3 linked regions of the Homo sapiens genome follow. The protein of the gene in region 3 purifies or fractionates together with the protein of the main gene of each other region. This does not show direct contact. Each region holds a gene or a part of one and is shown on either strand. Other genes may lie near its edges. The genes, in order: PUS7, RAB18 and ACTR6.

Region 1 (3,654 bases), on a different chromosome or scaffold from region 3:
AATAAAATAAAATACAAAACTTAGTCGGGCCCAGCTACTCAGGAGGCTGAGGCGTGAGAATTGCTTGAACTCAGGAGTTGGAGGTTGCAGTGAGCCGAGATTGTGCCACTGCACTCCAGCCTGGGTGACAGCAAGACTCTGTGTCAAAAAAAAATTAATTTGTCTATGATAGGGCCATTGACTTAAACAATGAAAAATGTAATTTCATTTGAAATTTAAAAGTGAGTTTAGTTTATTCTTGTCTTTTCAGTTAGATATATCAAGAAAAAGAGATCAGACAAATGTCCACAAATATCAAGAAAAAGACTGGCAACCTAAAGGCCTGTTGTCAACCTAAAATAATCAAAAACGTCAGAATCTAGTACAAAGAGAAATTATTCAAGTGCAAAGTTTGAGGATGTCCCACCTGGAAACACCAGTTCTAAAAAAATGGAGTCAAAGTTCTGAAGTAGGGAAGTTTAGGTTTTATATAGGCAGAGACAGGAGTTTTTAGCAGGATTACAACATTTTTCGTACAGGGTTTTCACATAGTTACAGCAATTTGATTGGTTATAGGCAGTGTTTCTTTTTGGGGAGAGTACATTGGGGAAGGTGTAATAGTTATGGGTTTTCTGTCATACGGTTTAAGCATAAGCAGGACACCAAAGGGAAAGTTCCTCTCTAACAAGGGTCATTAATTAAGAATTTTTAGTCATTGTAGGCCAGGCGCGGTGGCTCACGCCTGTAATCCCAGCACTTTGGGAGGCCAAGGCGGGCAGATCACGAGGTCAGGAGATCGAGACCATCCTGGCTGACACAGTGTAACCCAGTCTCAACTAAAAATACAAAAAATTAGCTAGGCGTGGTGGCGGGCGCCTGTAGTCCCAGCTACTCGGGAGGAGGCTGAGGCAGGAGAATGGCGTGAGCCCAGGAGGCGGAGCTTGCAGTGAGCCGAGATTGCGCCACTGCTCTCCAGCCTGGGGCACAAAGCGAGACTCCGTCTCAAAAAAAAAAAAATGAGAGAGAATTTTTAGTTATTATATGGAACAGGAAAAATGAAAGTAAGCTAATCTGTAATCTGAAAAACAAATTGTAACCATATGTGACTCAGATCATAGTCACATCTCTCTCAAGGCTTAAAAAGTGTTTTGGGGATTCCAACAGCTTTTAGATTCTGTTTTCTTTTCTTTTCTTTTCTTTTCTTTTTTTTGAGATGGAGTCTCGCTCTGTCACCCAGGCTGGAGTACAGTGGCGCGATCTCGGCTCACTGCAAGCTCGGCCTCCCGGGTTCACGCCATTCTCCTGCCTCAGCCTCCTGAGTAGCTGGGACTACAGGCGCCCGTCACCACGCCCAGCTAATTGTTTGTATTTTTAGTAGAGATGGGGTTTCACTGTGTTGGACAGGATGGTCTCGGTCTCTTGACCTTGTGATCCACCTGCCTTGGCCTCCCAAAGTGCTGGGATTACAGGCATGAGCCACTGTGCCCAGCCAGCTTTTTTTCTTTTTTTAAACTCCTCCAGACATAACAACAATACAGTTCAGCTATGTAAATCATCCATAATAACTATTTTTTTTTTTTTTTGAGACGGAGTCTTGCTCTGTCACCCAGGCTGGAGTGCAGTGGCACAATCTCGGCTCACCGCAAGCTCCGCCTCCTGGGTTCACGCCATTCTCCTGCCTCAGCCTCCCGAGTAGCTGGGACTACAGGCACCTGCCACCACACCCGGCTAATTTTTTGTATTTTTTAGTAGAGACGGGGTTTCACCATGTTAGCCAGGTTGGTTTCGATCTCCTGACTTCGTGATCCGGCCTGCCTTGGCGATCCACCTGCCTTGGCCTCCCAAAGTGCTGGGATTACAGGCGTGAGCCACCGCGCCCAGCCAGCTTTTTTTCTTTTTTTAAACTCCTCCAGACATAACAACAATACAGTTCAGCTATGTAAATCATCCATAATAACTATTTTTTTTTTTTTTTTGAGACGGAGTCTTGCTCTGTCACCCAGGCTGGAGTGCAGTGGCACAATCTCGGCTCACCGCAAGCTCCGCCTCCTGGGTTCACGCCATTCTCCTGCCTCAGCCTCCCGAGTAGCTGGGACTACAGGCACCTGCCACCACACCCGGCTAATTTTTTGTATTTTTTAGTAGAGACGGGGTTTCACCATGTTAGCCAGGTTGGTCTCGATCTCCTGACTTCGTGATCCGGCCTGCCTTGGCGATCCACCTGCCTTGGCCTCCCAAAGTGCTGGGATTACAGGCGTGAGCCACCGCGCCCAGCCCATCAATAATAACTATTAAGGACTAACAGTTGAATAAGAGGAGCTATTACAGACCTTTGGCCAAGTCATCATATTTTACTTTTACAGAGAAAGAAACAGATTCGAGAGGTTAAGTCACCCACTTAGTAAATGGCAAAACCTAGATCTGTCTCCAAGATTGTTGAGAGGGGGAGGCCTGATGTTTTTTCTGCATAAGGAGAGGAGGTGAATATTTTGCTGACTGTGAAGTCCCTGTGCCAAGCTGTGTGAATGGCCGTTATTGGCCACTCTTTCTTCCTTACTGAGAGTTCTGGCCTCTGGAAGGGCATCAGGATCTCCTGGTAGAGCTGTGATGCCAGCTGGGAAGCTTGTATGGTCATTGGGGAGGCATTGCAGGTTTTTGGTAAGGGCATGTGTGACACAATGTGATGAGTGCCCGCAGATCGTCTCCACTGGGATGTCTCCCCAGGAACCTGCAACACCACAGGACTATGGGTGGGCTCATCTTCTTCCAACACCTGCTCTTCTTTCTGGGACCCTCATATCAGGAGGACCACCACTGTCCTCTCAGTTCCCCAGGGATGGAAACTTGAGTCATCCTGAAGTATTTCCCCTTTCCTCCCACATTTGTCACCTTCTCCTGTCCCTGCTACTACTTCCTAAATGTTCTTGAAAGTCGCCTTTTTCTGTCTCCCTTGCTTCAGCCTTAGATCAGATTATATTAATTTCTTGCCTAGATTACAGCTGTACCCTCTTACCTGGTCTTCCAGCCTAACCCCAGTTTCTCTTCAAAGGGGTGCCACAGAATCTTTCTGAATTACAAATTCAGTGCTGGTCTGGTTTTCAGGTTGTGACTCCCTCCTTGTAGCCTCATGTGGCCTCCGCCCCTCCCAAGCTGTAACCCCAGACTCTCCTTGTATGTCTAACCCCCACAGTGGGCGATGAGTTCTTTTGCTCTTCCAGCACTCTGTGAGCTCCCACGCCCCCATGCCTTTGCACATGCTGTACCTGTGACCCCAAATGACCTTCTCCTGCTTTTCCTTCCTCTTCCTTATGCCACAAAATTTGGCCCAGGCATTGTAGTCTTTGGTTAGGTTTTGTCTTCAGTGTGTTCTCCCGGTCCTTGTGTAAGCCCTGGTCCATTTTTGTCTCCTTCATTTGTACAAAACCTCTGAGGGTAGTTTTGTTGCTGTAAGGTGAGAGTGAAATCGTGTCAGCATTTCATAAACCAGCGTTCTTTTTTTGACTACACCTGTTCAGGACAAAGAGTAAATGCTTTTTTCTTTGAATTAGGGATACTTTTATGTAACTACAGTTGTGGTCTACTTCTATTCCAGTTTCAGTTTCTTCCATTTTCTGTATTTAATTTCTTGTCTTTCAAAGGATTTTTTTTTTTTTTTTTTTTTTTTTTTTTGAGACA
Region 2 (3,654 bases), on a different chromosome or scaffold from region 3:
GTAATCTTGATGAAGTCACTTAACTTACTAACTTCATCTGTAAATTGGGAGGTTTTGTTAAAATTTCATGATCTGATGAGGAGAATATAGTAAAGATGATCCTAGCATTATTGTTAGGGAAAATAAAGAGTTTCTGTTAACTGGCTTTATTTGTTTTCATTGATTGTATGTCTATTTTTAAAATTTTATTGTGAAACAATTTCAGACTCAAAGATTTGTAAAAATAGCACAAATAATTCTTATGTATCCTATTAAATTACTCCAGATGTTAATGTTTGTCACATTTGCTTTATCATTCTCTCTCTACACACAGTATTCTTTTTTAAAAAAATGAGAGTAGATTGTAGACATGATGTCTTCAACGTCTGCATACTTTAATGTGTATTTCTTAAATGAACATAGATACATTTTATTGTCTATACACAGATTTTATCAGTTGTCCCATTAATGTCCCATATAGCAAAAGACAAATAATTGTTTCGGGTCCAGGATCATACACTGATTTTAGTTATTTCTCTTTAGCCTCTTTTATTTCATTTAATTAATGAATTAATTTATTTTCGAGACAGAGTCTAGCTCTGTCGCTCAGGCTGAGTGCAGTGGCACCAACTCAGCTCAGTGCAACCTCCACTTTTCAGGTTCAAGTGATCCTCCTGCCTCAGCCACCCAAGTAGCTGGGACTACAGGCACATGCCACTGCGCCTGGCTAATTTTTTTTTGTATTTTTGATAGAGACGGGGTTTACCATGTTGGCCAGGCTGGTCTTGAGCTCCTGACCTCAAGTGATCTACCCACCTCGGCCTCCCAAAGTACTGGGATTGCAGGTGTGAGCCACCGCGTCGAGCCTCTTCAGCCTCTTTTAATCAGCAATTCTTCAGTCTTTATTTGCCTTTTCAGGGCCTTGACATTTTTGAAGAGTAAATAATTATTTTGTAGAATGTCTCTCAATTTGTGTATGTCCAGTATGTCCTTAACGGTTAGATTCAGGTTATGCAGTTTTGGCAGCAATTCCACAGAAGTGTTTTTCAGAACATAGTGTCAGTGAAGTTATTATTTTTCCCTTCATAACTAATATATTTCTTGTAGAGAGATACATTGAGACTGTATAGGTATCCTCCTTCTTACACTTTTTGCCCTCCTGTTGTAGCATCCATTGATAATTCTTGCCTGTGACAAGTGATAAGGACAGTATATGATCTTTTCATTCCAACTGTGATGGTTATCAAATGGGGATTTTTTTAAAATGCCATCACTCTGTCTATGTATCTTGTTTGGAATTCTGTAAGTAAGAGCTCTTTTTTTTTCTTTTTTTGTGAGGCAGTGTCTCACTGTGTTGCCCAGGCTGGCCTGAGACTCCTGGGCTCAAGTGATCCTCCTGCCTCAGCCTCCCAAGTAGCTGGAACTACAGCCATGTACCACCATGCCCAGCTCAGGAGGAGCTCATGTTTGTTTGTTTCTTTTTCTTCATATGAACTCATGGTGCCTCTAAATTTTCAATAAATTAGGCATTACTTAGCTTTTGCATGATATTAAGATTTACAGATTTACTCTTATTTGTGTCATAGGAAAGGGAATCATTTAAAACACGAATTCAAAATCCATTGTAATTTGGCTTTGTTGTATTATAATAATAATTATTATTATTTAATTTTATTTATTTATTTTTAGACACAGTCTTGCTCTGTTGCCCAGGCTGGAGTGAAGTGGCACAACCTTGGCTCACTGCAGCCTCCACCTCCCCATTCAAGTGATTCTGGTGCCTCAGCCTCCTGTGTAGCTGGGACTACAGGCATGCACCACCACACCTGGCTAATTTTTGTATTTTTAGTAGAGATGGGTTTTGCTATGTTGGCCAGTCTGGTCTTGAACTCCTGGCCTCAAGTGATCCACCCACCTTGGGCCTCCCAAAGTGTTGAGATTATAGGTGTGAGCCACTGTGCCCATACTGGTGTATTATTTACTCCTATAAAAAATTACTTAGTAGTAAAACCTTATTTTGGTCAGAACCTGCCTGAGTACGTATTGGTATTGGCTAGCCAGGAGGAGAGCAGTAGCAACTGGCAGGAAAATAAACTTGCCTAAAGTTAAAATTTTACTGAAGGAATGAACATACATATAATATTAACTGTCTTCATTACAAACCCAAATGGAATTTGGGGACTTGTGGCATGACAAATCGTGGGTTGTCTTTATTACTAAAAAGGCTTTGTCTTCTGCAAAGACAAATACTAAGATTATAGTATGCTGGTGAAAATATATGTAATTTGTTCCCCAAATAGGCCCTAGATCTTGAATATGTTGAACAAAATATCTTTTACATTGAAGCATCAGATTACTTTCAGCCTTAGGTAATAACATATATATATATATATATTTTTTTTTTTTTTTTGGAGACAAGAGTCTCGCTGTGTTGCCCAGGCCGGAGTGCAGTGGTGCATGATCTCAGCTCACTGCAATCTCCGCCTCCCAGGTTCAAGTGATTCTTCTGCCTCAGCCTCCCAAGAAGCTGGGATTGCAGGTGTGTGCCACCATGCCTTGCTAATTTTTATGTTTTTAGTAGAGATGGGGTTTTACTATATTGGCCAGGCTGGTCTTGAACTCCTGACCTCAAGTGATCCACCCGCCTCAGCCTCCCAAAGTGCTAGGATTACAGGTGTGAGCCACCACGCCCAGCCCACACATGAGTTTTAAACATAAAAACAATTACTTAATGGCCTTGTGAAAATTAGTGTTTTATGAAAATTGGTATTTTACCCCACAGTAAAATAGTAGTAAGGAAAGTGTATTGTTACCTTTTAGTAACTTAGTGAGACACTTAAGTTTCTGTCTTGCATAAAATACTCTTTTAAGATAATTGTTGGATTTGGGATTTGCAGATGGTACTATAAAGTTAGCATTCTTCTTTCTTGGCAATTAGCTAAAAACAACAAAGAGAGGGAAAAACTGACACACAAACCCAGCATTCCACTAAACTAGAAGACAGTTAAAAACCCCAAGCCACAAAATAGGTGGAAATGTTGCCAGGAGCAGTGGCCATCAGGCTGGCTGCATGTGGGAAGAAGTAGGTAGGATGCCGTGGCTGTGGAGCTCAGAGACAACAAGAAACACCCATGAAACTGCAAGGCCCCCCTGAGGTATAAAACCTAAACCCCTTGTTTACAAAAGTGAAGTGGGTTTCTTCAGCTCAAGGCAGGAGCTTTCCTGCACCTGGTTTAATTCTAAGAAGTCGGGGAAATGAAGCCAAACAAGGAGTCACATAAACAAGCCATTTTTGCAGGAAGTAATATGTGTCTATCTCTATAGCAGTTGGGGAGGAGATGACTGCATTGTGAAAAACCTCCAGACTGCCTGTCTGCATTGGCTGTTGAGAAGTAAAATGCTAAACTGTCTCTTAGGTAAATCTCTGAATCACGAAAAAGTTGTCAGTCCAGAACTGGAGGCACTCTGGCCTTCTGCATAAACCTCCTACAAATATCAGGTTCTGGACAACCAGCACTTCTTCAGAGATGAATAATCAAAAGGAATTCATTAAGCTTGACTGCCACAAATGTTTGGAAATAAAAAAGGAAGAAAGAAACAGAAAAACAAAGGACAGATGAAGAACAGTAACCTAAAATATTGCCATAAAGAAGATGAATATTGTGATCAAACATT
Region 3 (3,654 bases):
ATAGAGCCACATATCCAGTAAACACCTAAATTAGGGGAGTGAAAGTAGACAGTACTAGAAACACAAGACATAGTAAATGTTTTTTATTTAGAATGTGTTCTTTGTTCCCTAGAAACTAGAATCATTGTACCATTATAGGTATATTATGAAGTTCTCTCTTGTCTCTCCTCCTTTTTTTCTTTGTATTTTAATTTTTGTTTTGTTTTTTAAGAGACGGGGGTCTCGCTATGTTTCCCAGGCTGTCTTGAACTCCCGGGCTCAAGTGATCCATCCGCCTTGACCTCCCAAAGTGCTGGGATTACAGGTGTGAGCCAGGGCACCTGGCCCTCTTTGTATTTTAAAGTGTGTGGAATAAAGCTGCCAAATTATCTTTGAAGGAACAGCCATATTAGCGTCAGTAATTATTTAGTTGTGTTTTGTGTGATTTTGGCAACAGTAAAGGCAGCCACACATTCTTCTAAATTTTGAGAATCCTGAAACTTCCAAGAACATTATTAATATATTATTAATATATTATTGCATATATAATTGCATATTACTAATTATTAGTCATGTGAGCTAGATAATATAACTTAAACTTTTAATCTTCTTTGTCTTTAAGCCAAGGGAAGAGATGGTGTTGAGTGGAAAATACAAATCTGGGGAACAAATTCTTCGTTTGGCCAATGAGAGATTTGCTGTTCCGGAAATACTCTTTAATCCTTCTGATATAGGCATTCAAGAAATGGGAATTCCAGAAGCTATTGTCTATTCAATTCAAAATCTACCTGAAGGTACATAAATAGAGTAAAATACTAAAGAATTATAATTGTTTTAAAAACATCATAAGCCCTGTGAACCCTGTTTCCTCTAAATAATTTCAGGCAAATTGGTGAGTCTGTTTTATTTGCAGAGATTTGTAGATCCCATAATGCATTTATATAATTCTTGATTCATCTTTGATTATAAGTTTTTTTTTGTGATTATAAATTCGATAGAGGAAAAATCATTATGGTCCATTTAAACTTGAAGAAATGTATCTCTCCATGAGCATTAAATTGCCATATCCATTTTAGGAAAGTTTTAATTTAACCCAGATCTGTACAGAATATAAATTTATAATGTAACAATTTAATGGTTTTCAGCTATTGGTAGACTGACTTATTCTTTCTGCTATATTTAGAGTAACATACAGGATTAATTTTAAAGAGATTGGAATATGGTGCTTCATAGTGATTTCTGGATTCTCCTGAAACATGCCTTAAGTAAATAATGTTCCAGAGTTTTAGGGTACTTTACTATCTCCCTGGTTTGCAAGAAGTAGGCATTGGAGAAAATCTAGCACAGGCCATGTGCTTTCCTCTCATTAAAAAAAAAAAAAAAAAAAGAAAAACATAATGCTGTCCATACATAATTATTTCACAGCTATTTTCATATTTCACATTTTATATAAAGTTGCAGTCATGATGTGTACAACATTTTGTACTACACTGCTTTAAGGTCATGGCAGAGTGAGACTCGAGGTCAATATAAGGAAACTCTGCCCTTGTTTTACTGAACAGAAACATTAGGTGGGACGGCCCATACCTGTTAATTCCTGATGGATTTTCCAGTGGTGTTTTGAAGGCTTTAAGTAACATTTGCTATCATGTAACTTTAATGAGTGTTCATACTTAGATCCCTTCTTTAAACATAGTTTATGAGTGTTTTTAACTATCAAAGGTAAGTATTGCACAACATACATGTTTGCCTCAATGAGATAATGTGGAGATTTGGGCTTGTAAGTTCAAATGTCATGAAAGACCTCGTTTTCATCCTTGTGGTAGCTCACAGTCTCAGCCTACAGCAAGAACCACCCCCCTTCCATTTTAGAGAAGAATAATTATAATTACCAACTGTTTTTTTTACTACAGTGTCACTCATTTATATATGGCTTACATGAGTGTATAGTAAGTAGCCAGTAGTTTACCCCCCTCACCTTAGGTTTTTCTTTTAAAGATCTATGTGGTCATTTTTCACTGTTTCATGTCTTTATTTGTATAAACTGTAACCTCATTACAAATCTTAGAATGGACCTGAAAATTTATTTGGTTTCCCACCAGTAACTGTAATCCCTAATTGCTTCTTATCTGATCCCTCATCCACATCTTTCCAGAAAAGTAAACAGATTTTCTAATGCCTTTTTTCCTTTCCTTCTCCTTTTCTTCTTTTAAAGAAATGCAGCCGCATTTTTTTAAGAACATTGTCTTGACAGGAGGAAATTCCCTTTTCCCAGGATTTAGGGATCGGGTTTACTCAGAAGTTCGATGTCTTACTCCAACAGATTATGATGTTTCTGTTGTGCTGCCTGAAAAGTAAGTGTTGTTTTATATAGAAACGAAACATGGAAGTCCACATGTAGAAAAGGTGGTCTGTTGACTTGAGTTTAAAACCTGGCTCTCCCACGGTGGCAGGTTCATTTCACCTGCTGAATATTCATTTTTCTTCTTTCAAAAATTGAAATGATAAACCTTACATTTCACTAAATTAAATGGAAGTATGTAAAGTGCCAGCCATAATGTTTCATACACAATGGGTGCTTAATTAAGTATATGGGGTGATTACTCCCATGTAGTAAATCAGCCTTGGTCCTAAGAGATTTTTATAGGCAAAGCAATCAGGTTATTGTCTATATGATTTATCTGAGATGTATTATTTATTGACAGTTTCTGTCAGGAATAGAAATTGAATAATTGAACCATTGTGATAAGTTTTATCAATTCATAAATTGTTTTAGAATTTTTTAAATTCTCCTTTAAATGACTTTTATTAATGAGGTTTTTAAAATTCAAAACTGTTTTATGTCTACCCTGTACAGTGTTATATGAGAAAAAGTGCATATCATCACTTCCACTTCAGTGGTTAAAATAAACTAAGGTAGGGCCAGGCGCAGTGGCTCTTGCCTGTAATCCCAGCACTTTGGGAGGCTGAGGCAGGCAGATCACTTGAGTTCAGGAGATTGAGACCAGCCTGGGCAACATGGTGAAGCCCCGTCTCTACAAAAAATTAGCCGGATGTGCTGGTGTGCACCTGTAGTCCCAGCTACTCAGGAGGCTGAGGTAGGAGGATCATTTGAGCCCAGGAGGTGGAGGTTGGTGTGAGCTAAGATTGCACCACTGTATGGTAGCCTAGGTGACAAAGCAAGACTCTGTCTCAAAAACAAACAAACAAACCCCCCTGGCAAAAAAAAAAAAACAAAAAAAGAAGGTAGAATTTTACAGCTCTAAGGGCTTATATATCATCCTATTCTATATTCTTATTTTGTAAATAAAGAAACAAGGGCTCATGAGTTGGCAAATGCCCTATGGTGAGTTAATAGCAATGATCAGATTAAAACCCAGTTTTCTTACCTTGAGTGAGGACTTCTTACCCAAAGTATATGTCTAAAAACTCACCCCTAGTGTTAGTGGCAGAGTTGCAAACAAGACCCCACATACCTGACTCTTAATTCTAGAGTTTTGTTTTAAAGCTAAAGTAGAATTTTCCAAAATCAGCAAGTTAATAGAAGGCCCTCATTGGTATCACTTTCTTTTATAGCTATGAGATAAATGAATAAACAATTTAAAAATATTGGGATGATTTTTATCACCACTAATGTTCATATGTTCTTAAGACTATAAAGCATATTGGCTTTTT

The links.
Region 1: the proteins of ACTR6 (region 3) and PUS7 fractionate together in Homo sapiens (co-fractionation; one large-scale study listed by BioGRID). This does not show direct contact.
Region 2: the proteins of ACTR6 (region 3) and RAB18 purify together in Homo sapiens (co-immunoprecipitation; one large-scale study listed by IntAct). This does not show direct contact.

The regions. Positions count from the first base shown.
Region 1 is NC_000007.14:105,512,139-105,515,792, reverse strand, and holds part of PUS7 (pseudouridylate synthase 7 homolog), read left to right. Parts: intron 1-3,654. UniProt on the Homo sapiens protein: Pseudouridylate synthase that catalyzes pseudouridylation of RNAs.
Region 2 is NC_000010.11:27,510,660-27,514,313, forward strand, and holds part of RAB18 (ras-related protein Rab-18), read left to right. Parts: intron 1-3,654. UniProt on the Homo sapiens protein: The small GTPases Rab are key regulators of intracellular membrane trafficking, from the formation of transport vesicles to their fusion with membranes.
Region 3 is NC_000012.12:100,217,814-100,221,467, forward strand, and holds part of ACTR6 (actin-related protein 6), read left to right. Parts: intron 1-601; coding exon 602-773; intron 774-2,194; coding exon 2,195-2,333; intron 2,334-3,654. UniProt on the Homo sapiens protein: Required for formation and/or maintenance of proper nucleolar structure and function. Plays a dual role in the regulation of ribosomal DNA (rDNA) transcription.